Regions from separate parts of the Homo sapiens genome. Here regions 1 and 3 are each linked to region 2. Evidence: fine-mapped expression QTL. A gene starts in region 2. Each other region holds a variant in brackets. All regions are shown on one strand. Distances are from middle to middle.

Region 1 (8,100 bases), 110 kb before region 2:
GAGAGGAGTGTGACATTTCCTTGCTCTCTTCTATTCATCCTGGGCTTCTTAAAGAGATACTGCAAGATAAACTTGAGGTTTTCTATGCACGTGTAACTGAGTATTTCTGATTTTATTGTCTCTGTATTAAGGCATGCTGCAATTCTTTCTTTTGGGAGAAATCCCTGTGTTATTATTCCAGTATCTAGAGTGATTCATATGTCTGGAATGACAAGACGATCCCATATTGAAGCCACTGATAATGCCATCGTTATTGCTGTGCTGGGAAGAGATCCAAGACTAGTAACTAAATCAGCTGATCTTCAATGTGTGTAAAGCACTTAAGCTACCCTGCAATTCAGGGTTTCCACTTGCACAGACTTGACGATTGAATTCTGATTTCCACTCAGGGTTTTCTATTAACATTGTGAGAAAGGATTAGTAAAATATTGACTTATGGAATTTTGTTCTGGGAGAACTAAAACAGAAGCTAACCTGTTATTGCAAATAAAGTCTCTTAACTAAAACGTTGAATCTTGAATATCGTTGCTATTTACTTTTATTATGTGTGCAGTTATTTAAAAGACGTCTTTAGAGTAGTTTTAGGCTCACAGCAAAATTAAGCAGAAAACACAGAGAATTCCCATACACCCCATATGCCACTCATCTCTCCCCAGCCTCCCCCTCTATCAGTATCTCACACCAGAGCGGTACATTTGTCACAATTGATCAACCTACATGGACACTTATCACCCAAAGTCTATAGTTTACATTAGGGTTCACTCTTAATGCACATTAAGACAAATGTATGACATGTACTCACCATTATCCTCTCATATGGAGTAGTTACACCACCCTCAAAGTCCTCTGGGCTCTACCTATTCATCCCCCTCAACCCCACCTCCTGGAAACCACTGATCCTTTTACTGTCTCCATTGTTTTGCACTCCCCAGAGTGCCATATAGTTGGAATCATACAGCATGCAGCCTTTCCAGACTAGCTTTTTTCACTTAGTAATATGTATTTAAGATTCCTCCATGTCTCTCCATGGCTTGGTCATTTCTTTTTAGTGCTGAATAATAATCCATTGCCTGGATGTTCTACAGTTTACTTATCCATTCACCTATTGAAAGACATCAGGGTTTCTTCGAAGTTTTGGCAATTACAAATAAAGTTGCTTTGGAACCAACCCAAATGCCCATCAGTGATAGACTGGATAAAGAAAATGTGGCACGTATACACCATAGAATACTATGCAGCCATAAAAGGAATGAGATGAGATCATGTTCTTTTCAGGGAACATGGATGAAGCTGGAAACCATCATTCTAAGCAAACTAACACAGGAACAGAAAACCAAACACTGCCTGTTCTCACTCATAAGTGGGAGCTGAACAATGAGGACACATGGACACGGGGAGGCAAACAATACACACCAGGGCCTGTCAGGGGTGGGGGACTAGGGAGACCAGGACAAATACCTAATGCATGTGGGGTTTAAAACCTAGATGACTGGTTGATGGGTGCAGCAAACCACCATGGCACATATATATCTAGGTAACAAACATGCACATTCTGCACATGTATCCTGGAACTTAAAGTAAAATAAAAAAAATTTTAAAATAAAGTTACTATAAATATCCATGTGCAGGGTTTTTGTGGACATAAACTTAGGGTTCCATAAGTTTTCAGCTCATTTAGGTAAGTATCAAAAACCTTGTTTGCTGGATTGTATAATAAGAGTACGTTTATTTAGTTTGGTAAGAAACCACTGAGCTGGGTCGGGCGCAGTGGCTCTCGCCTGTAATCCCAGCACTTTGGGAGGCCGAGGAGGGTGGATCACAAGGTCAGGAGATTGAGACCATCCTGGCCAACATGGTGAAACCCCGTCTCTACTAAAAACACCAAAAATTAGCCAGGTGTGGTGGTGGGCACCTGTAATCCCAGCTACTCAGGAGGCTGAGACAGGAGAATCGCTTGAACCCGGGAGGTGGAGGTTGCAGTGAGTTGAGATCACACCATTGCACTCCAGCCTGGGCAACAAGAGCAAAACTCTGTCTCAAAAAAAAAAAAAAAGAAGAAATCGCCAAACTGTCTTCCAAAGTTGCTATAACCATTTTTGCATTCTCACCAGCAATGAAAGAGACTTCCTATTGCTTTGTATCCTCACCAGCATTTGGTATTGTCAGTGTTCTGGCTTTTGGCCATTCTAATAGGTATATAGTGGTGTCTTGTTTTAATTTGCATTTTCCTGATGACATATGATGTTGAGCATCTTTTCATCTGCTTATTTGCCATCTGTGTATCTTGTTTGGGGAGGTTTCTGTTCAGATCTTTTGTCCATTTTTGATTGAGTTATTCATTTGCTTATCGTTGGGTTTTAAGAGGTTTTTTTTGCATATTTTGGATAAAAATCCTTTATCAGATATGTCTTTTGCAAATATATTCTCCCAGTCTGTGATGTGTCTTATTCTCTTGGTGGTGTCTTTTGCAGAGCAGAAGTTTAAGCTTTAATGAAGTCCAGGATATCAATGTTTTCTTTCATGGCTGGTTTGTTTTTATTTGACTCATTGTTTTCCTTCTCACTGCCCTTGATGACTAATAGGGACCTCTCCTCCACTTTCTGTGCCCCAGTATTCATTATGCCATTTCTATGGATCCTACACAATTGCCATGGGCATCAAATGAGATGGTGTTTATAGATGGGGTTTTTAAACTGAAAAGCAGCAGTACACCTATCAGGTGACATTACTAGTCTATTGACAGTACACACACACACACACACACACACACACACACACCACATGCACATATATATCCACATGCTTTTATTTCTTTCTTCTTTGGCCAGTGGATTGTATTCATTATACCAATTAAAAAGAGACCATCATTCTTTTTTTTAAAAAAAAAGGAAAAATGTAATAAAGAGACCAATTTTTAGTCAGGTGCAGTAGTCACATCTATAATCCCAAAGACTTGGGAGGTTGAGGCGGAAGAATCATTTCAGCCCAGGAGATCAAGGCTGCAATGAGCCATGATTGCGCCACTGCAAACCAGGCTGGGCAACAGCGCAAGCAAAATCCCAACCTGTTAAAAAGAGAGAAGACAGAGAGAGACCATTTTTTTTTTTTTTTTTGTATTACAGTTGACAATAGCATTTGAAATCTAAGAGATAAGAAGCTGTAAATGTCATCTTTCATTCCAGAGCTTTTAGAAGGTTACCTTTCTCTGTCTCAGGGAGAAGTGTATCTATTTCAGTGCCCTCTGTCTCTGGAAGGGACAAAAATTCTTGCATGACCCAGGTTCCTCATGCCACTTCTTGATCTAGCTGTGCACTTCCTTGTGAAATCTAGTTTTAGCAAGAAGCTTGCTAAGTCAGTTTAGCCAGAACCCTTGATATCTGATCATCTTCCATCTTCCTCATCTTCAGGGTAAGATTCCTCATCCTCCACCATCCCCTAGGTGATGTCTCATACCCCGACCTGTCTTCAGCAAGAATCCTGTTAGGTCGGTTTAGCCAGAATCCTCCTTACCCAGATGTTACCTCATAGTAATTTTCTATCCACTGACCCCCTCCCTGCTCCTTGACTATAAGTTCTTACTTGCCCCTGCTGTGGTAGAACTTGACCCTGTCAACTTGAAATAATCGAAAGAATTAGAACCTAGCTTGAAAGAAGTTATTTAAGCTTTGAAAAGCTGAGAATATCCATCTGGGAAACACAGACTCCAGAGAAATGAGGTGAGCGCTCTGACGTTAAAAATTAAGCTTTTGCTTATATAGGCAGAAAACAGAGAAGTTTAGTTGGATTGTAACATTTTCTATACAAAGCTGGTTTATGAGTTACGGCAATTTAAATGGTGACAGTTTGTTTGCTGCTTGTTTTCATTTTCTTTCCAATTTAAAACAGTATATTTAGTATTGCATCTTAAGACAATGTGATAGCCATAAAGTCTTTGTGTGAGAAAGGTAGGGAGAAAGTTAATCTATAATGAAGATCCACAGTGAATAGGGAAGAGGTCTTCCCTGAGGCCCTTAAGTCATTTACATTTAATAGAACAATGTAGGGAAGGAAGAAGTTTAATCTCTAATCAGAGAAACACAGGTTTCAGTTGCCTGGGTTATGTCTGCCTGCTTGCCTGACTCAGGCCCCATAATCACATTCCTTTAAGGGTCAAAATAATTTAAAGTTCCAACAGCTTAGATTTTGAATTATATATTTTCACAAGCCCCATCTCCCCCACCACAAAACCTCACTGCCGTGGTTCCTCCACCAACCCTGATGATCCTGAATAACATCTGCTTCACTGTGCTGTAACGAGCGTCGCTGAATAATGTTTCCTTTAACAGAAGCGCCAAGAACTATCTTTGCGATTTTGCAAGATTTTCCCAGTTTACATTCATCTCCTGCTTCAGGGTTTTCTTTCCATTTATTTTGACAAAACTAAATGAAACTGGCAGTTAACTTTAACTGAGTAATGAAAGACAACAAAAAGCAAACAGAGCTGGAGACAGAGAGAGAAAAAGAACACCAATGAATTAACTGTGGCAGCACCTTGAGATTTGATGTTTTCTGGCCTGCAGGCCTGGCTACGGGGCACCTAGAACCCTCAGGGCTAGAAGTTCCAGCTGCCCATTGACTAAGCTCTAGGAAAGGAGAGGAAGGAGCAGAAGAGAGCAGGGAGGGGAAAGGAGAAGGGCAGCACGTGAAGCTCTAAAAGCTTCTGATTTATTTTGCTGAAGATCTAGTCATCAGCTATAGAAAGAAAGGTGTCATTGGTAAATGTCATAACCAGGTGGTTTATGATAGCTCATGTTACCTCTATCCCACTGCAATGAGAGTATTTATTTGAAGCTGTCTCTCCATCAATTACAGGGAAAGATCTTGAGAAAAAGACAGTTTCATGTAACATCTTTCAATATATTTTATTCCATGGTACTTTGGAATTATTGTTATATAGCAAATGGCATATTTTAAAAATTACCCTTTCTAAATTTTTGTTGTTCGTATATAAGAATGCTGTTTTTGGGGTTGGTTGCAGTGGCTCACGGCTGTAATCCTAGCACTTTGGGAGGCCGAGGTGGGTGGATCACCTGAGGTCAGGAGTTC[G/A]AGGCCAGGCTGGCTAACATGGTGAAACCCTGTCTCTACTAAAAATACAAAAATTAGCCTGGCATGTTGGCACATGCCTGTAATCCCAGCTACTTGGGAGGCTGAGGCAGGAGAATCACTTGAACCCAGGAAGCGGAGGTTGCTGCAGTGAGTGGAGATTGCGCCATTGCACTCCAGCCTGGGCAACAAGAGCGAGACTCCGTCTCAAAAAAAAAAAAAAATCCTGTTTTTGTACAGGATCTTACACGCAGTTGATAAACTCCTTCATTAGTTCCAAATAGTTTGTCTATAGAATTTATTGCATATTCTATATGGAAAATCATGTCATCTACAAACATGAAACTTCGTTTATTCCTTTCCAATTGTTACAGCTCTTATTTCATTTCCTTGCTTTTATCATACTGTCCAGACTTCTACACAATGCTAAATAGGAACAGTGACAGTGGATATTGTTGTCTTTTTCCTGTCTTTGTAATTTTCCTCCATTTAATGTGTGTATTATGTATAAATAATGAATATATTTAATGTGGGCTTTCAGTGGACACATGTTGTCAGGTTTATGAAGTCTCTCTCTCTCTTTCTGTCTCTCTCTCTCTCTCTCTACATATATATATATGTATATATATACACACACACTTTTTTTTTTTGAGGCAGAGTCTTGCTCTGTCACCTAGACTGGAATGCAAGGGCACGATCTCAGCTCACTACAACCTCCACTTCCCAGGTTCAAGTGATTCTCCAGCCTCAGCCTCCAGAGGAGCTGGGACTACAGGCACCCGCCACCACACCAGACTAATTTTTGTATTGTTAGTAGAGACGAGTTTCACCATGTTGTTTAGGCTGGTCTCAAACTCCTGATCTCAAGTGATTTGCCCGCCTCAGCCTCCCAAAGTGCTGGAATCATAGCATGAGCCACTGGGCCCTGCCGAAGTCCCCTAATATTTATGTTGGTTTTAAAAGACCATGAATGATGTTGACTTGTACCAAACTTTTTTATATATCTTTCAAGATGATCATATAGTTTTTCTTCTTTAGTCTGTTAAAGGGAGGAATTACACACAAATTCCCCTTTTATCAGCTCCCACTAATATTGCAGCATGTGCCTTGTACTTTTCTTCATGCTCGTAGAATAATCATTTGACAAGAGTATGCACACAGCCACACATGCATGCACACACACGCACATACACACACACACACACAATCAGGCTAGACTAGAAGTATGTGTGATAACAAACCTCCAGCATCTCAGTGGTTTGTCCCCTAAACGTTTGTCTTGGTCATATAAGATTTGCACGCAAGGGGCAGTGGTTGTCCGTGAGAAGGTGCAGCTATGGAGGCAGCTTCCTTGAATGGCTTCATTATTTCTCCACCCAAATACTTTGCTTTTTACTAGAGAATGGGGTAGAAGCAGATTGGAGAAGTTCCCAGAGGCATTTCCTTCCAGAACCTGGTGGAGTTGGTATGTGAAAGGTGCTATGTCTCTCAGAGACGAAGGAAACAGAACCCCAGAGCTGAAGAGGCGCATCTAGGCCACTTATTTGGAAAGGGGGAGGGCTCAGCTTCCAAGGAACAGGCTCTCTGTTGCTTTTCACCTGGATAGATATTTAAATAATTCAGAGTATTTCCCCCCAAACCTTGACAGCATGGCCTCATGGGAGAACGTCTCTCCAATGGAGTCCATTCCTTCCCCTAGAACAGGGGAAGGAATGAAAGGAATTCCGCGTTGTGGCACATCCCAGAATAGTTCCATCAGGTAAACACATTCTTTCCTAATAGAAATCTGTTGGGAAAAAATGATCTTTCTGAACAGTGGTCAACTGCTGTTGCTAAAATCGGAGCATGATTAGTGACAACTAAGTCCCCTCTCAAAAGTGTCATGTCCAAGCAGCGGACGGCGCTATGGAAAGAACGGACAGCGTTGGAGGCATCTGCTCCTGGCTGGGAGTCGTAGGGTGTCAGAGTCATGGGGCAGCCTCTCCTGCTGCTTCCCAGGCCTCACAGTAAAACAGGAACCGAGGCATCCTTGCCCCTCCTCAGCTTCAAAGCTGAATCACTGTGAAGATATGGTGTTTCCACACTGATACATTTATTTCACTTCATTTATCTGAGGATTAAAGTGAGCTGCAGAAAGGTATCATTTATTAAAGTGGAAAATAGAATAAATGTCGTTGCCAGAGTATCCCTTATTTCAAGCACATTTTCAGTGTCAGACTTTCTCATCCAAACTTGTTTCCCAAGCACAGCGTTCCTCCGTGTAATTAATATCACATGCTTATAGCTCAGCTGCAAAGCATTCTTGGCTATTTTGATAACATGAAACCTGGCAGTTACCCGTTGTGATTTACACATAGTTGCAGTTGGAGATTTTTCTAAAATTACAATAAAATTTCTTTGAGGGGAAATCTGTTTTAAGGACTGGATTGGGGAAAGAAAATAAAAAATAGAAGCGAACAACTAAGTATGTCTATTCTCCAAAGTGCATATAAGTCTATCAAGGCAACACACTGGCCTTTGATCAGAGCCACTTTACAAGGCAGGTGATTTATGGACAGCCAGGCCATCCCCTGCAGTGAAGCCTGGGGCTCGAATGCTTAGGGACAGGCATGTGCTATTTTTAAAATAAAAAGACTATAACTTCACTGCTGTTTCCAAACCTATTGGATTATTTTACTGCTATGCTTTATTTCCTTCTTCACTGGTAATGTTGGTCATCTAAGATGAAACAGAAGTAATATTTTCCATGTTCGCAAGTCTGACAAATTTTAGTTTACAAAATTCCTTTCTCTGCAGGTGGAGATTTGACACTGTACCTGAGTGGGTATAGGATTTAATTGTTACCAGAGCCAAATCCAAAGCAGGAAGAATCCTGTCTTAAAATCCTGAAGCACAGGTGTTCTAAGTGGCCTCAGTCTTTGCATCCCATATAGAAGCAGCTGGCAGTCACAGCGGCTGCTCTCAGGGGACTCCCCCAGAAGTCTGGCCAGTGCAGGGCTGGGTCGGGGGGGTATTGCA
Region 2 (8,100 bases):
CAATAAGCAAACCTGAGTGACTTGAGATCAAGAATAACAAGAGAGCACTAACAAGTCAGATAGATCTCTCATTAGAAACCTCATTATCAATATATTAGCAAAGGAAAAAAGCCTAATGGGATTTAATGGCTTATTTGTCACCTATTTCCACATGCTTTACTTACAAGGATCTCTCTCCTACACACACAAATTTTCATTACAAATTATTATACATGCAATTATCCTATCCATGAATTTCTTACTTTAATATTAGATAAAGAAAACCACTTCACTAGACATAAAAAGACAAAAACAGAAATGTAGGGTCAGAGGAGGGTTTTAAAAAGGCAAACCCCCTGAGGATTTGCCATGGTGTTTTGGGAGAAGTAAAGGAAAGGAGGAAGCTGAACTGCTAACAATGGAACTATATCACTCATCTCTGAGAAGGGGGAGGCTTCACATGGGAAAGAGGGACTGAAAGCATGGGCAGTTAGTATCGGTAAGAGCTTCGGTATTAAATCCTGGGTCCTGGGGTGGGAGACTGGGAAATGCTTACTGGGCTATGTTGGCTGGATGAAACAGAAATTGCCCAAAGCTTTTCCCAAAATGTCAAGAATCTAAGTTAGTGTATGTCTTCAATGTAACCAGTAAGGTAGAGGAGTTAGTGAAGGTTGGAAGATTTGCCAAACATTTGCAGAGAGGACCAGAACAAAAGGTAGGACATTTGCAGAGAGGACCAGAACAAATGGCGGGAAGTTTGCAATCTATCATAAACAACACAAAGTTAATGAGTTGACTTAAAATTTCAGGAAAGGTACTGAAAATATTCTTTTAAGCAAATAAAGATTTAATAAATATTAACCAGTGACTTTTATTCTAAGAATATAATGATTAATATAAATAAGACAATCTTTGCTTTTGTAAAGGTTACTATTGGTTGGAAAGAAAAAGTAAGTAGAGAGATGATGACAAAACAGGACAACAAATAATAGAGGTCAGGCCAGTCTGGGTAACACAGTGAGACCCTGTCTCTACAAAAAAATTAAAAAATTAGCTGGGTATGGTGGCACATGCTTATGGTCCCAGCTACTGCAGTGGCTGAGGCAGGAGGCTTGCTTAAACCCAGGAGTTTGAGGCTGAAATGAGTGGTGATCCTGCCACTGTGCCACTGTACTCCAGCCTGGGTGACAGAGTGAGACCCTGTCTTTGAGGGAAAAAAAAAAAAGAGGTTAGGACACTATCTATGAAAGCATACAAAAACATGTAAAAACACAAAACCCAACTTGGGGGGAATGAGGGAAAGCTAACTGAAAGAGAGGTAATAAAATTTTAGTGAATGTAAAAATAGAGTTTTATGAAACTACTCGTAACCTCCTCAAACCTTTTTTTTCCCTCTATGAGGAAATTATATTCCTTCATTATGCCCATATATATTTTTTCCATTCAACAAAAACATTTAACATTACAAGCACATGTCATACAATTTTGATACATGCTTTCAAAGATTTTTAAGTTAACCAGGAAAAAGTTATCTAAACAGAAACACTAAAATACATATTTCAGGTGCTATTAAGGGGATCTAAGCAAATTGCTATAACAGCAAAGAGACAAAAAGCCTAAATAACTCTTAGGAGGGATTGGGCCTTACTCACCTCTGAAGCTGCAGGCCCTAACACAATGGCAAACACACATAAATACGAGGTGGTGGGGGGAGGGGGCGCGCAGAATTAAATCAGTTGATTTTCCAAAACATAATGGTGTCAAGACCCGACTGGATCTTAAAGGATGAAGCAGGAGTTTACAGATGACGGATGGTAGAAGCCTGACGGAAGATGAAACGCCACATGTAAAGGCATGTATTGGCAAAAAGACCTGAAACATCTAGGTGAGTGTAAGAATGAAATGTTCAAGGGGAGGCAAAGGATGAAAGGTGGGGATGAAGGGGCTATGGACATAAGAAATGATGAGAACTGAGGCTACATAAGGAGGCCAGAGTTGGATGGCAAATGGCCTCATATATACCATTCAATTTTTTTTTTTAATTTTTACACAAAAGCAGTTGAGATTCCAAAATGGCTTTGTTTTAAATGAGGGTATAATACAAGGTTTTTTTTTTTTTTTAAGGAATCTAACTCTAGAAATGTGAAGGATGGATCAAAGAGAAACAAGACTGGTGGAAGGGAGACCTCCTGGCTATTGCATACATATATTCTGGTCTAGTCCAAGTTCCATCTGGTCTGTGAAACCTGACCAGTCCAGCTCTTACTGGCCAATGCTGCCCCAATCCCTGCCCCATCCCCCCAATAATCCTTGTCAATCTCTGCAAGAGTGACAGTTTGCAAGACTATATCATTTAACACAAACTTAGGCACCTGGTAGGTGCCTGAATATCTGCTGAGGAAATATGAAATCACTTACGTAACTACTACTCTTCTCATGCCACCCATCCTCCACTTGATCATGCCCACAGACCTGTCACAAAAGAATTGGGCCCAAGGAAGTCACCAAAGACTGAGACAACCCACTGTGTTCTTCCACGTTTTCACTTGTGCCTCTAGTCCTTTATTCAGACCCCACCCGGCTTTCCAAACTGCCAGTTCAGCCTCATCTTCCTCCTATTTCATTCTTTCCTTCCTTTTTCTTTCTATCCATCCTCTAATCTTAATGATGTACACATATATCTACAAAATAAATCTGTTAAAGGTACAGGAAAAAAAAATCCTCACGTTTGCAAGCCACCGTACCCAATTTCTTTTAACTGGCTATGTTTAGGCCAATATCTGAGTCAAGGTTGTTAAAAGAGAAGACTTATGCTTTCATTTTATTTCAATATTTTATCATCTGAATATTTATTACATGCAAATATCTAACATATATTTACCCTCCAAATAGTTGGTGATGAAAGATCCAGCATAAACTTCTATTCACTTATGGTGGGAGCTAAATATTGAGTACACATGGACACAAAGACGGGAACAACAGATACTGGGGATCCCAAAGGGAAGGGGTGGAAATAAGACTGAAACACTACCTACTGGGTACCACGCTCACTACCTGGGTGACAGGATCAATCACACCCCAAACCTTAACATCAGGCAATACCCCCATGTAACAAACCTGTACTTCTACCTTCTGAATCTAAAATAAAAGTTGAAATTATATATACAAAAAAGAATAAATATCATTGCCAAAATAGTTTAATATTTTTCTTGAGCATTTAAAAAAGTCACATGTAATTAGCCAGTCCTCTTATAATCAATTTTCACAACAAGGCTGTGGGGTGAAAATTATTGTTACTTTAGAGAGAGTAACAGAATAATGTGAGAAACAGATCTGGAAATTCTACCAACAAATTCTACCAAGCAGCACTTCTCCAAACTTTTCTGACCCTCTTATTATCCTGACAAAAGAACCGGTGAACCACTTATCCCAGCTGTTTTCCTCCCACTCATCCTATAAAAAGTAAACACACTCCACAGCTGAATGAAAAGCATTATTACTTTGTAATAAAGCCCCAAATGAGTTGATAGCTGTCATTGTTCTAAGTCTTTAAGTTATTAATACAACGACAACTATATAACTCCAGTTACCGGGAGGGAATTCAGTACCTGATCCTCTTCTGATTCACAAAAGATGTGCTGTACTCCAGAGTGGTGCTGAAGAACACACACCAGGAATCAAGATTCCCAGGGGTTTCTAAGCAGATTCGGCCAGACTCCCCCTCGTTACTTCCAAAATGCTACCTCAATAATCAGAAAGCACGATAAAGGATCCAGAAGGGAAGGGACATTGTGGGGAGGAGGATGAGTGTTTAGTGTAGAAAGGAGGATAAGATAGCCAGGGGCTGATCAACGAGAGATCAGCATACAGTAGGATTAGTCAGGGATGCTGGGAGATGGATCTTGAATAACGGTGAAATTTTATTACTGGATTTCAGTAAAGGGTTAAAAGTACAAAAGTTAAACTTTAAAGACTTTAAACAGAATGCTTTTAACGAGAGACAACATACTTTCAAAAAAACTACCTTCTGGTATGATACCTTGAATCTACAGATTTTAAAGTTGCCTAAGGCAAAAAACTAAGTAATTTTTAAAAACCGTCGTATGTTTTCAGGTTTAAAAAAAAAAAAGTCGCATATTTTCATAAGGTCTGAGAAGCTCGCCAAAACCAAACCTAACTGAATTCTCCTTATGTAAACGAAGACTAAGCCACAAGATTCAATGACCCTAAGCAAACACGCTGCAGAAGACCGTTTAAAAATAGAATACACAAAACTACCACAGGAAACAATTCCGGAAGAGGACTGGGTTATCTTCTGGAAACCCAGCTTTCGTGCTTAAAGACAAACTATTCTTCCCCAAACCAAATCTCCCGATCCCTAAACATTAAGTTCTCACATGTCAGTTGCCTATCTGGTGTCTCCACCCCACCCCAATGATAAAAGCTGTAAAATTCTCTTTAAAAACGTCAGGCTGGGACCGGTGTCCGAGGCACGAGGGGTAGGCAGAGGAAGGCGGCGTGGAGGGAAGGAGCCTGGGGGGTCCGGCCTGGCAGCGCCGAAGCGAGAAGGAAGGGGAGTCCCTGGGGCCAAAGGGGGACCCAGGCTTCCCCAGGCAGCCGCGCCGGGCACGCTGCTTTTGTTGAGCTGGGGGGACCACGGCCCAACCTGGGGTCCGGGCCCTCGCCCGCCCAGCGACCCTGGCACTGTGCGCCGTTGAGTCCCCTTGGCGGGCGCCCGTCCCTCCCGCGCCTGGCTCTGACCTCTGCCCACCCCGGTGCTGCCCACCCCGGCCCGGACTCGGCCGCAGAGCGGGGCTTTGGCCTGCCGGGCTCCGAGACTGTGTCCCCACCCGCGTCCCCGGCCGCCCGCGCCCCCGCGCCCGGGCCCTCGGGGGCCGCCTCACCTGCATGCCCGGAGCCCCCGGGTCGACCCCCGTGTCCAGGACTGCGATGAGCACCCCCCGCCCATCATACTCCGGGTAGCGGCAGAGGAAGGAGGCGGCTCCGGTCTCCTTCTTCGGCAGGAGACCGTGAAAAGGGAAGGGCTCCTCAGTCGCAGCGGTGGCCATGGACGCAGGATGGAGGACGAGGAAGCGGCAAACTGCCAGGCTGCGCGCGGACTAGCAGCGCGAGGACACCCGTGCGGCCTCGGGCCGGAGGCGGGGGCGAGGGGCGGGGTCGGCCCGTCTTCCACCAATCCCGGCCTGCCAGGGAGCGGTGGCCAATCACGTGCTGCTACGTAAGCCAACGGCGCCGCTCTCAGGAGCTAGGCCCGAGTATTGCCCGGGCTGCAGTGAAGGGGGAGGAGTCTGAGGACATTACTGGAGGGTTCGGATCTCGAACCTGGGGCCTTGAAGAGGCCCGCGCTTGGGGTTTTTAGGCAACAGCAGGCCTCCAAGCAGAGTCCTGGTGTCCCGGACCGAATCACTCCCCGAGAGACGGGCAAGGAGATGGACCGCCAGCCAGGAATAATGGGAACCCTTCGCTTGGCAAACGATAGTTTCCAAACTTAAGGTTGTGGATGAAACTTTTTGGTGCGGCTGCTGCAGGAGCCCCAGCCCCGGGGTGCTGCTGACCCGAGGCAAGGGAGCCGGCGCACTCACGCTTAGCCGCTAAGGAGTCTGCGGTGTCGGCGAAAGCTCCGGACATGATTTTGGAAGGTCGTAGGTTAAGGGGTGTAGACTTTGGGTTCCCCTGTGTTGTTATGCCCCTTTGATGGGGGTGAGGTGGTGAGGGGGAGCAATAGGGTGGAGACAGGCAATAGTTTCAGTCAACAGGAAGTGGGTTGTTGGTCATTCCGTCGCCTTTGTAGCCAGTAACAAAGCACGAGACTGAAATGGGCCCCTCCTATCCTCTGCTGATCCTTAGCTTCCGGGATTTCTGAAAAACATCTTTTTTTTTCCTCTTACACTGAAGTTTCTGATTGCTCCTTACGGCTGTCCACTCAATTATAGAGCCATAATTTTCAGTTTTCCAGATTCACAGTGCCTGCCGTCAGTTGCTGCAAGCTGCATAGTGGTCCTCTAATGATCTTTATGTCTATGCTCATGCCAGGGTAATCTTAGCCTTTTATTGTGCCGAAGACCCCTTTGGCAATCTGGTGAGGCCTATTTCTCAAGCAGTGTTTTAAAATGCATACAATGAAATAGATAGGATTACCCAGGAAATAAATTATGTTTAAATGCAGTTATCAAAAATACTAAAGGCAATTTTGTTATATAGCAGGAGCTTTACGTGTGTGTGTATAGTTACAGGTGTACTTCTTTTGCATTAAATAACAGGAGCTAGGGCCAAGGCTAATAAACTACCATAACTTCAAAATAGTGAAGAATATAATTATTTGGAGATAGCGGTGAAAACTGCACTACGATGAACTGATTTTTATTGGTGACATAACAGCATAACTACCCTGGTTTTTGCCTACATTCATACTTGATGTGAAAAAAATTAAGAGGTTTGTATCTTTTTTCTACGGAAGTTTTTGAACCCCTTGGATTCTGTCTATGGACACCAAGTTAAGAATACCTGGTATAAAGGAAAGCCTTATGCATGCGGTTTCCAACCCACAGAATTTCAGAGATCCTCCATTAAGTCTCAAAAATTATTCTTATGGCTGTGCAATGGTTTCAGCTGATTCCTTGATCATTTATTCAGTCCATAAGTCTTACACAAGCATGTTCTCTTTAGTGCAGAGGAAAAAGAAAAGTTGAATGTTTTTCTTCTTATTCCCAACTGTTTACATTACCTCTAGAAAAGAATTTCAAATTAACACAGACGAAAACAGAATAACAAACTCGCAGAAGACATTCAGTATAGAGCTTATAGTGATAGAACAGAATGGCTCCCAGTTTCAAGTGAACCATAGTCCAATCACTTCATTTTATAGATGAAGAAACAAAGTTAACTGACTGTCATGGATTACAAAACAGGTTGATGAAAACACGGGATTTGTCTTCTCACAATCTCTCCCCAGTATGTTCTACCACACCATGTGCATGACTTTGCCAGAGTATCACCCAATGAATAAATGGGGAATGAACAGTTTATTATGAAACCTAGGTGGCAGACTTTTTATTAGACTGCCGTAACAATGTTCTTTAGATTTTTCTTTTCCTTTCCTTTTCTTTTTCTTTTTTGACACAGAGTCTCACTCTGTGGCCCAGGCTGGAGTGCAATGTCACAATCTCGGGTAACTGTAACCTCCGCCTCCCGGGTTCAAGCAGTTCTCCTGCCTCAGCCTCCCGAGTAGCTGGGATTACAGGTGCATGCCACCACACCTGGCTAGTTTTTGTATTTTTAGTAGAGACGGGGTTTCGCCATGTTGGCCAGGCTGGTCTTGAACTCCTGACCTTAGGGGATCCACCCACCTCGGCCTCCCAAGGTGCTCAGATTACAGGCATCAGCCACTGCACCCGGCCAGATTTTTCTTTTTTTGCTTACATATCCCATAAACATGTTTTTAAAAAAGTTATGTATCCCTTTGTACAGCTGTAAAATGAAGTCTAAATTTGTCACAATTTTTTTTTTTTTTTTTGAGATGGAGTTTTGCTCTTCTTGCCCAGGCTGGAGTGCAATGGCGGGATCTCGGCTCACTGCAACCTCCACCTCCCGGGGTTCAAGTGATTCTCCTGCCTCAGCCTCCCAAGTAGCTGGGATTACAGGCATGTGCCACCACACCCAGCTAATGTTTGTATTTTTTTAAATAGATACGGGGTTTCTCCATGTTGATGTCAGACTGGTCTCGAACTCCCGACCTCAGGTGATCCACCCGCCTCGGCCCCCCAAAGTGCTGGCATTACAAGCGTGAATCACTGCGCCCGGCCTATCATAAATTTTAAAAATTATAAAGGATGTAATTTCTGGCATAGTATAAATATCGTCATTATTTAATGAAACTTTCACGTTTCTCATGTAAATATACCCAGTTGAGTGTAACTCTGATAGCTACCATCAACTATTTATAAAATATCTGAACACTTAAAAGCAGACATTTTATATCACTATTTCTTCTGGAAACTTTATTTCCATTCTATATGGAATTTTTTCTCATTGTAATTTGCATTTATAATGGAAAGGCATATTGATAATGTATCATCATCTGCAATAAAAATATATTAATTT
Region 3 (8,100 bases), 71 kb before region 2:
TCCCCCTCCTCTTAGATGCCAGGTGCCATCCTTAAATGTCTTCTCAGCAGTCCTTTGCTTATGCCTTCCAACAATCCAAGGTGTCGGGCACAACTACTATCCTGATTTTGTGAAGGAGAAAGGGGCTTGGAACAGCAATGGGTTGACAAGGCAGGTTTCCACACCCAGGCTGATACTTGTAGATTGGTCAGGGTGGTGGGTAAAAGTTAGAGGGAAAGATGCAAACCTTCTTGGAAGGCCGCGAGGTTTTGCAAAAGCTTCGAAAGAGGATTTGGCTGAAGGCAGTCAAATTCTCTTATCCGGAGCCTGAGAGCAAACGGCAGATAACAATGGAATGTAAAGAAACTTATCTAGATAAATTGGTTTCCTCCTGTCCCCAAAACCCAACCTCTGATCATTCACAAGCAGGACTGCTTTCTACTTGGGGGGTCGACAATGTTTGTTACCCACAAATTGTGTTTGCTCCAAGCTTTTGTCATTAATTCTGTACTAAATAAATGCGAGCATCACTGGCTTAGGGGGACTGCTAACTCTCTTCGGCCCCTAGTGCCGGCAGTCCCTAGCCTGCTGTTTCACTGGATACCTGTGTCTGAGTACTCCTTTCCTTTCATCTGTCACTCGGCCATAGTCTGAGGGACAGACTTGGCAGGTGGTGCCCCATGAGAGGAACGCTGCAATGGATCACAATGGAACCCTCGAAAATGAAGGTGAAGAGACTGCGCAGTCAGTAAGTCACTGGTGCCCGCTTGGGATTTCCAAGTTCGAGGGAATTGTTCAGGCTAGGGTTTCATCATGGGACAACAGTTATCAGCTCAACAGCAACAGTATATAAAAGTAATGAAACAGCTGCTTAAAGCTAGTGGAGGCTCGGTTTCGCAGGCTCAATTAAGGGACCTAATGCAAACTGTTGTTTCCCATAACCCATGGTTCCTCCCCCTTCTCCCTCAGCCCCGCTGTTACCGGGCAAAGATAACAAAGAGGAAACGGAGGTTTTGCCTGAGCCCCGTCCTCCAATAAATTGGAGAAAAGACAAGGAATATGCTACAGCTATGGGACCCTGTCTTAGGCAAGCGGCATTAGAAGGGGAGCTCTTGGCCTGCCTGGTAACGCAAAATTGACAACACAATCAGGTGTATGAACCCGTTACTTTTAACGCTTATAAAGAGATAAGGAAAAGCATTAAAGAAAACGGAGCCGCTAGCCCATTTACAAGAGGGTTGAGGTCACTCTGCAGATCTCTTTCTAATAATGGCCACTGTTGTTTCTCCCCTACCCCTGATGAGGCTCTCTCAAAATCTTATTTAGGTAGAACAGTGACCTTTAAAGGGAGAGAAATTACAAAGAGCCCATGAATTAGCTGAGGAACAATTAAAAGCCAGCCATATACAACTGTCAAACAGCCCTTGGAATTTGCCCATTTTCCTCATTCCCAAAAAGTCTGGCAAATGGAGACTTTTGCATGACTTACGGGCTATCAATGCTAATTTGCAACCTATGAGGCCCCTACAACAGGGCCTCCCTTCCCCAGCGGCAATTCCTGTAGTTTGACCTATAGTCTTATTGACTTAAACGACTGCTTTTATACTATTCCCCTTGCAGAACAGGACAGAGAAAAATTTGTGTTTAAAATACCAGTTATCAATAAAGGCCAGCTCGCCAATTTCATTGGAAAGTACTTCCTCAAGGAATACTGTGTCAGTATCATGTAAATCAGGCTTTGCTCCCCATTAGAAAAGACTTTCCTAATTGCAAGATTATTCATTTTATGGATGATATTTTACTAGCAGCTCCAACGGAGCCAGGACTTGTAAGTCTATATGCCTCTGTCGTAAAGAATACACAGTTAAGAGGTTTAATCATAGCACCTGAAAAAGTACAATTGTCTTCTCCTTAGAAATATCGTGGATACATTCTAACTTACCGGTCAGTAAGACCTTAAAAAGTTAAATACTAGCAACTTACACACATTAAATGATTATCAGAAATTACTAGGAGATATTAACTGGCTTCACCCCACCTTGGGCATAACTGATACATTACAAAACCTGTTTCTATCCTAAAGGGCAATACAGCCCTAGACTCTCCCAGGTATTTAACTCCTGCAGCAAAAAGGGAAATTGAGGAAATAGAGCATGCTATTTTTCAGAGGCAACAGGATTGCACAGACCCACGATATTCAATATTCAGTTCAATTGTTTGTTTTTCCTACTAAGCATTCCCCAACAGGATTAATAGGACAGATGTCCCCAGGGCTATGCTTCCTAAAATGAGTTTTTTGCTCACATACCAGAACTAAAACTCTATCTCCCTGTACCCAGCTAGTTAGTAAAACCATCTATTTAGGCCGCAGATGATGCAATCAGTTGCTAGGTTATGACCGTGATGTCATCGGAAGTCCTTTAAGTAAAAAGCAATTCAAAGCAGTCTTGCCCTTATCTCTAGACCTGCAAATAGCACTCTCTGATTACAAAGGCCATATAGAACATGCCCTTCCTGCCAATAAACTACTTCAGTTATTATCTAGTACTCCTGTAGTTATGCCTACAAAAGTGGTTCACCGCCACACCCCCCCACCCACAATACCTAATTCTTTAATGCTTTTTATTGACGGCTCTGGTAAAAATGGAAAAGTGGTTATTTGGTGGAGACTGCACAATTCCCTCACTTGTTCTGGATTTACTAACACTCAAGAAAGCTGAGGTTGGAGCCTTAATACTGGCCCTAGAGACCTTTCCTGCTCAGCCAATCAATATGGTTAGTGACTCTGCTTACTCTGTTTATTTATTGCAGAACCTTGAAACAGCCCTTATTAAGTCCACTCTCAAGCCCACCCTGTGTGCAGTTTTTCTTTGATTTCAGCAATCGGTGGATCAATGTACACATCCTATTTTTATTACATACATTTGGGCCCACAGCTCACTGCCTGGCCCCCTAGCTTATGGCAATGATCAAGCAGACCTGCAGGTTATGACATCACTGCTTGACCAAGCCACCCATTCGCATCAATGTTTCCACCAAAATTGGACAAATTTATCTAAACGATTTCAACTTACCCAAAGACTAAACAAATTATCCTGCAATGCCCAAATTGCCAGCTCACACGCATGTCCCCTCCTTCAACAGGTGTTAACCCTAGAGAACTAGAACCTAATCAGTTATGGCAAACAGATGTTACACACATCCCTAAATTTGGAAAACTAGGATATGTACATGCATCCGTTGATACCAATTCTCACCTAATTAGCATACATGCTCTTCCTGGAAAGTCTGCTCAATATGTTATTAAACATCTTCTTTTAACTTTTGCATTTATGGAGCGGCCCACAAAAATTAAAACTGATATTGGTCCAGCTTATGCCAGCTCAAAATTTCAGCAATTTTGTCATATGTGGAACATCCAACAATCCACAGGCATCCCTCACAACCCCCAAGGACAGGCCACAGTAGAACGTGTCCAATCCACCCTTAAAAATATGCTCAGAAAACAACAAAAAAGTGAATATGAGTAAGGACCCTGCAACACTACTGGCAGAAGCCTTATTTACCCTTACTTTTTAAAATCTAAACGATAAATTTCAATCAGCTATAGAAGAGCATTTTGCTAAAACCTCTCAAGACATAAACCTGCAGTTTTATGGAAAGATATAAACAGTAATGTATGGTGCGGTTCAACTGAATTGTTAACACTGGGAAGAAGACATGCTTGTGTTCACACCCCCTCAGGTCCTCTTTGGATTCCAGCACGAGGCATCAAACCATACCATAGCGTGGCTAGGACCCAACCCGGTACCAGAAATGAAGAAAATGACCCTGTGGGACCCATAGCCCTGGATGATGCAGCTTCTTCAGACGACACAAACCCCAGACATTACCTGGGAGATGTTGAAGAAAACTCAGAAGGCTGAATGAATCCTGCTCTGGACATAGACACCATTCACTCCAGATAATTTGTTCCTTGCTATGCTTTCCGTTGTACACTGCAACTCTTTTGGGTATTAACCCTTCTTATTCTCTCACTCTGCCTGCAACCCATACCTGCTACACGCTATTGGGATCATCATTTAGATTTGCCTTTCTTCTGCCCTGTTACCTGGGCAGACACCACCTTCCCAGCCTCCAATAAAGTAACTGCTTGGCTGGAAGGGGGTAACATACCCTCAGTGGGGTTCCTTAGTAACAGCACACATTGGACTGAGGTGCCAAGAAACACTACATGTCACTCCTTGATTGGAAAAGAATGTTACTGATTATACTCATTTTGTCTTATGTTATTTACTAATTCTAGGATGCAAAGCTGGAATACAAGCAGTAACCACTACGCCAGACAAACCAGTTGCTGCACACATCTGTACTCTTCAATCAACAAAACCTGATGCAAAAAAACAGAAAATGGGGAGATGTAGGAAATTGGTCAGAGTGGTAGGTAAAAGTTAGAGGGAAAGATGCAAACCTTCTTGGAAGGCTGGGAGGTTTTGCAAAAGCTTTGAAAGAGGATCTGGCTGAAGGCAGCCAAATTCTCTTATCTGGAGCCAGGGAGCAAAAGGCAGATAACAAGGGAATGTAAAGGAACTTATCTAGATAAATTTGTTTACTCCTGTCTCCAAAAACCAACCTTTGATCATTTGCGCTAGACAAATTTG[A/T]CTACTCCTGTCTCCAAAAACCAACCTTTGATCATTCATGTGCAGGACTGCTCTCTACTTGGGGGTCGACAATGTTTATTACCCACAAATTGTGTTTGCTCCAAGCCTTTGTCATTAAATCTCTACTAAATAAATGTGAGCGTCGCTGGCTCAGGGGGACTGCTAACTCTCTTTGGCCCTTAGTGCTGGCAGTCCCCTAGCCCACTCTTTCACTGGATACCTGTGTCTGAGCACTCCTTTCATCCGTCGCTCGGCCAGAGTCTGCAGGGCAGACTCGGCAAATGCTGCCTGATGGATCCTGGCTGCCCAGAGAAGGGCTGGAATGATGCAGAAATCAGAAGGCAACCTGGGGGTGACACAGGTAATCTGCATTTGTCAGACCTGGGTTAAATTAGCTGTAAGATCCCTTTCTATTTTAGCATCCTCTTATCACGTAATCTAAATTCTACATATCTGGAGTATTCCTTTCCTCTCCTTAGGTTTTGTACTGACTGGCTGAGATTGAATACCTTTATAGTACATGAGGCTTTTTCCACTCAGGTGAAAGTCAGCTTTTCTTTCTACAGGCTTTTACAATTTGAAATATTTATTTAAAAATACTTGTATTTCATTATCTCTTAATAATTTCCTATCTGGCAATTTCATCTTCTATATTAGATGATAAGTTTCATAAGAGTAGAGACTATCTTGCTCATGTTTTAAGTCCTTGTCAGTGATGCCTTACATGAAGTATTTGCTCAATAAGGACCTTGAAATCAAATCTAGTTAGGTATCCATCAAGATAATAGCTACATTTTAGGAAGCAACTTAATTGGAATCAGTATTTTAATGCCTAAATAAGTGCAGTTTAAATTTAACTAAAACATGATATTAACTAAAAGTTAATATTTTTTAAGATTAGAAAATGGCATTTTACAATTTTTGATGTTACTGATTTAAGAGAAAGCAATTTTGCATGGAAATGAGAAATTAATGCTTAAGTTGGCTGCTACTTGCCCATAGATGACATCTGTAAGAAATGCTAAGTATTTCCTGATAGCATCTTGTATAATATTTCAACTCTGAATACTGTCTTCTGTCCAAACACAACCTGGTCAGAGTCTATTTCAGTCAGGCCAAAGCAAAGGCCTGGAGAGAAATAGAAATTCTTTAATTACAAGGATAAACAAGTTGACCCAGTGTCGCTAAAAACTTAAAGCAGCTCCACTCTTAGCGTTTTTACAAAGTTTTATGGCTTCTTTTCTAGTTTTATCCCAGCTTATTTCAATAGCCATGATAGTCAATGTCTAGTAATCTCCAAAGAGTAGAAACTAAAAAAAAAAAAAAAAAAAAAAAAAGAGATTAAAAACAGTGATAAAGACCAATAAGAAAACAAAACTAATATCGTATTAGTTTATGGCTCACTGTAAGCTGAGATTGAGTTTCCTCTGTGGATGGTAAAACTGAGAAAACCATATGTGTTATTTCATGTAACACCCGAGTTTGAGAAAATCATATTATTTTCACAAAATGTAAAAAATAACAAAAGCTAGAAAGTATATGGGATAGTTAATGTCGGGGGCTGCAGAGAGCTCAAAGAAGACTCAAAATGGGCCATTCTTTTTAGCAACTGGTTATCACTGGTGATCTGTGGAAGACAGTTTTAAAGTGACCAAGGCCAGCCTCCTCTTGCAATAAGATTAACAATGATCACCCTGAGACAGAAAGGAACACAATGAGGATGGGTGGGAGGCAGACGATGCTCCTTTTTCTGTGAGATAATACTGAGTTATGTTAACCTTCTCAAGAAGGGAGAAGAATATACAGAGAAAAGAAAGGGCATTGGCTGTGGAGGCAGATCCTGATTTGACTATGTGCTTTCCAACTTCCTAGCAGTGGCACCTGGGCCAAGTCATCTAAACTCTCTGAACTTCAGTTTTCTCTTCCTTAAAAGGGGGATACAAAGGCCCCTGCCTTCCATGTTGTTTGGAAGACTAAATTTAAATAAAACAATGTATTTAAAATGCCCTCAATAGTCCCTTATACATAATCGGCACTTAATAAATGGTGGCTGTATTTTCTGTTATTATTAACAACAACAACAAAATGGCAATGTTTTGAGACTATTCTTTTGAAAAATATGAAAAGGTAATAATAGTGGCCAAAGAAGCAATTTTAAATATATTCTATCCCACTTGAAAATTATTGCTTGTAAGATTCATAAGATCCTATAGTATCAATATAAATGATATAATGGAAAGAATTCTAGCAGTTTGGAATCCAAGTATTTTATGTAGAAAAAAATACTGACTGAAACTGAGAAAATTTTTAAGGAAAATTTAGTATTTTCAGGTAGCCTGAATAGTTTTGGTTTATTAGTTATAATAACCACAAAAGAATCAGGATATTTCTACCTAGTTAATGATCCTGTAAGTCAAAAATAAACAAAAGTGATAAACAAGTAACTGACACTGGGAGAGCTACCATGAGGTGATGGTTTAAGAGTTCATGGAAGGGTGAAAGTGACCAAATGGCAGCTTGGTTCAGAGTCACTGGACCATTAATTACACCAACATACGGAAATCACACTTGCATGGAAGGAACCATACCAACCACTCATAAACCCAGGGAAGCTTCTCTATTTACACACAGCATTAGGTTTTATAAAGGCAAAACTATAAATTCTCTCCTCCTATTCTCCCTAATACTATAAAACCAGTTTCATAAAAGTTGCCAGATAGTTTTAACCTAATTTTATTATCATTTATTTCACTACAAACCACGTATTAGGTTTGTCATGTAATTATTACAAACCAAATATTAGGTTTTTCATGTTACTGGACAATAAACATTTTAAAAATTATTTTATAGATTGTTAATTTTTGTCTTCCTGATATGGTCCAATTCACATAAACCCTCAAGTGGTTGGACTGCTTGATCACAGATATTCAAATCCCTCTACCTTGACAGCACTTAACAGTAGAGAAGGCAAACTACTTTTCTTGGGCTTACTCTTAAAAAGATTGGACAAAATTATTTTAAAATTTCTAAGGAGGGGAGTATCCAAATAGTGATAATTCCCATTATAAGGATATAACAAACATCAGAAAAGCAATATCCTCTATAATATTAGTCCCTACTTTTTAAACAAGTTAACTAGGAAATGAGATGCAAGAAAGATTATTTACTGGTTAGGTACTTTTTTATAGTAGCTGCATCAGGCCTGGGATCAGTCTTCATTGCAATATAAACTGCTAGGGCTGTTTGATCTATATGAGAAATAACAGCATTTGCCGCATCAACAATTTCATTAAGTCTTTTCATTCGTTCCTGGAGAGGAAAAAAGAAATAATAAAAAATAGGTATATCAATCAGTATACGAAAGCAATTTCACTTCTGCTGTCTCAACCATGAGACCTACAACTGCAGTGTGAGTAAACTATGTAATTGACTTGTAGCCCAGGGGCTCCCTGCTATCTCC

Direction of the effects. Alleles are on the strand shown, and positions count from the first base shown. SD is a standard deviation of normalised expression in the study named.
For the expression in skeletal muscle of the gene that starts at base 5,101 in region 2, allele A in region 1 goes with a lower level than allele G (moderate effect, 0.50 SD a copy in FUSION).
With allele A in place of T in region 3, the expression in monocytes of the gene that starts at base 5,101 in region 2 is higher (large effect, 0.77 SD a copy in Quach 2016).

Evidence for each region. PIP is the estimated chance that this variant, and not a neighbour inherited with it, causes the effect.
Region 1: its variant is the best candidate, but not a certain one, in a credible set for the expression of TPP2 in skeletal muscle (FUSION, PIP 0.60).
Region 3: its variant is the best candidate, but not a certain one, in a credible set for the expression of TPP2 in monocytes (Quach 2016, PIP 0.75).

What each region holds. Positions count from the first base shown.
Region 1 is chr13:102,699,796-102,707,895 of GRCh38, reverse strand. It overlaps a transcript of METTL21C not described here. Among named protein-coding and RNA genes, the nearest start is that of METTL21C, 8.8 kb to the right of the region's middle. The variant G/A (reference allele first, on the strand shown) is at 5,086.
Region 2 is chr13:102,593,987-102,602,086 of GRCh38, reverse strand. It overlaps TPP2 (tripeptidyl peptidase 2), which reads right to left and starts at 5,101. Exons shown (of 30, transcript NM_001330588.2): 1 at 4,884-5,101. The coding sequence starts at 5,048. It overlaps LOC107984588 (a long non-coding RNA gene), which reads left to right and starts at 5,145. Exons shown (of 2, transcript XR_001749984.3): 1 at 5,145-5,639; 2 at 7,686-8,100. RefSeq lists silencers at 4,588-4,877, 5,038-5,327 and enhancers at 5,398-5,457, 5,508-5,667.
Region 3 is chr13:102,664,644-102,672,743 of GRCh38, reverse strand. TPP2 (tripeptidyl peptidase 2) reads right to left here. Exons shown (of 30, transcript NM_001330588.2): 27 at 7,819-7,949. Among named protein-coding and RNA genes, the nearest start is that of METTL21C, 26 kb to the left of the region's middle. The variant A/T (reference allele first, on the strand shown) is at 4,641.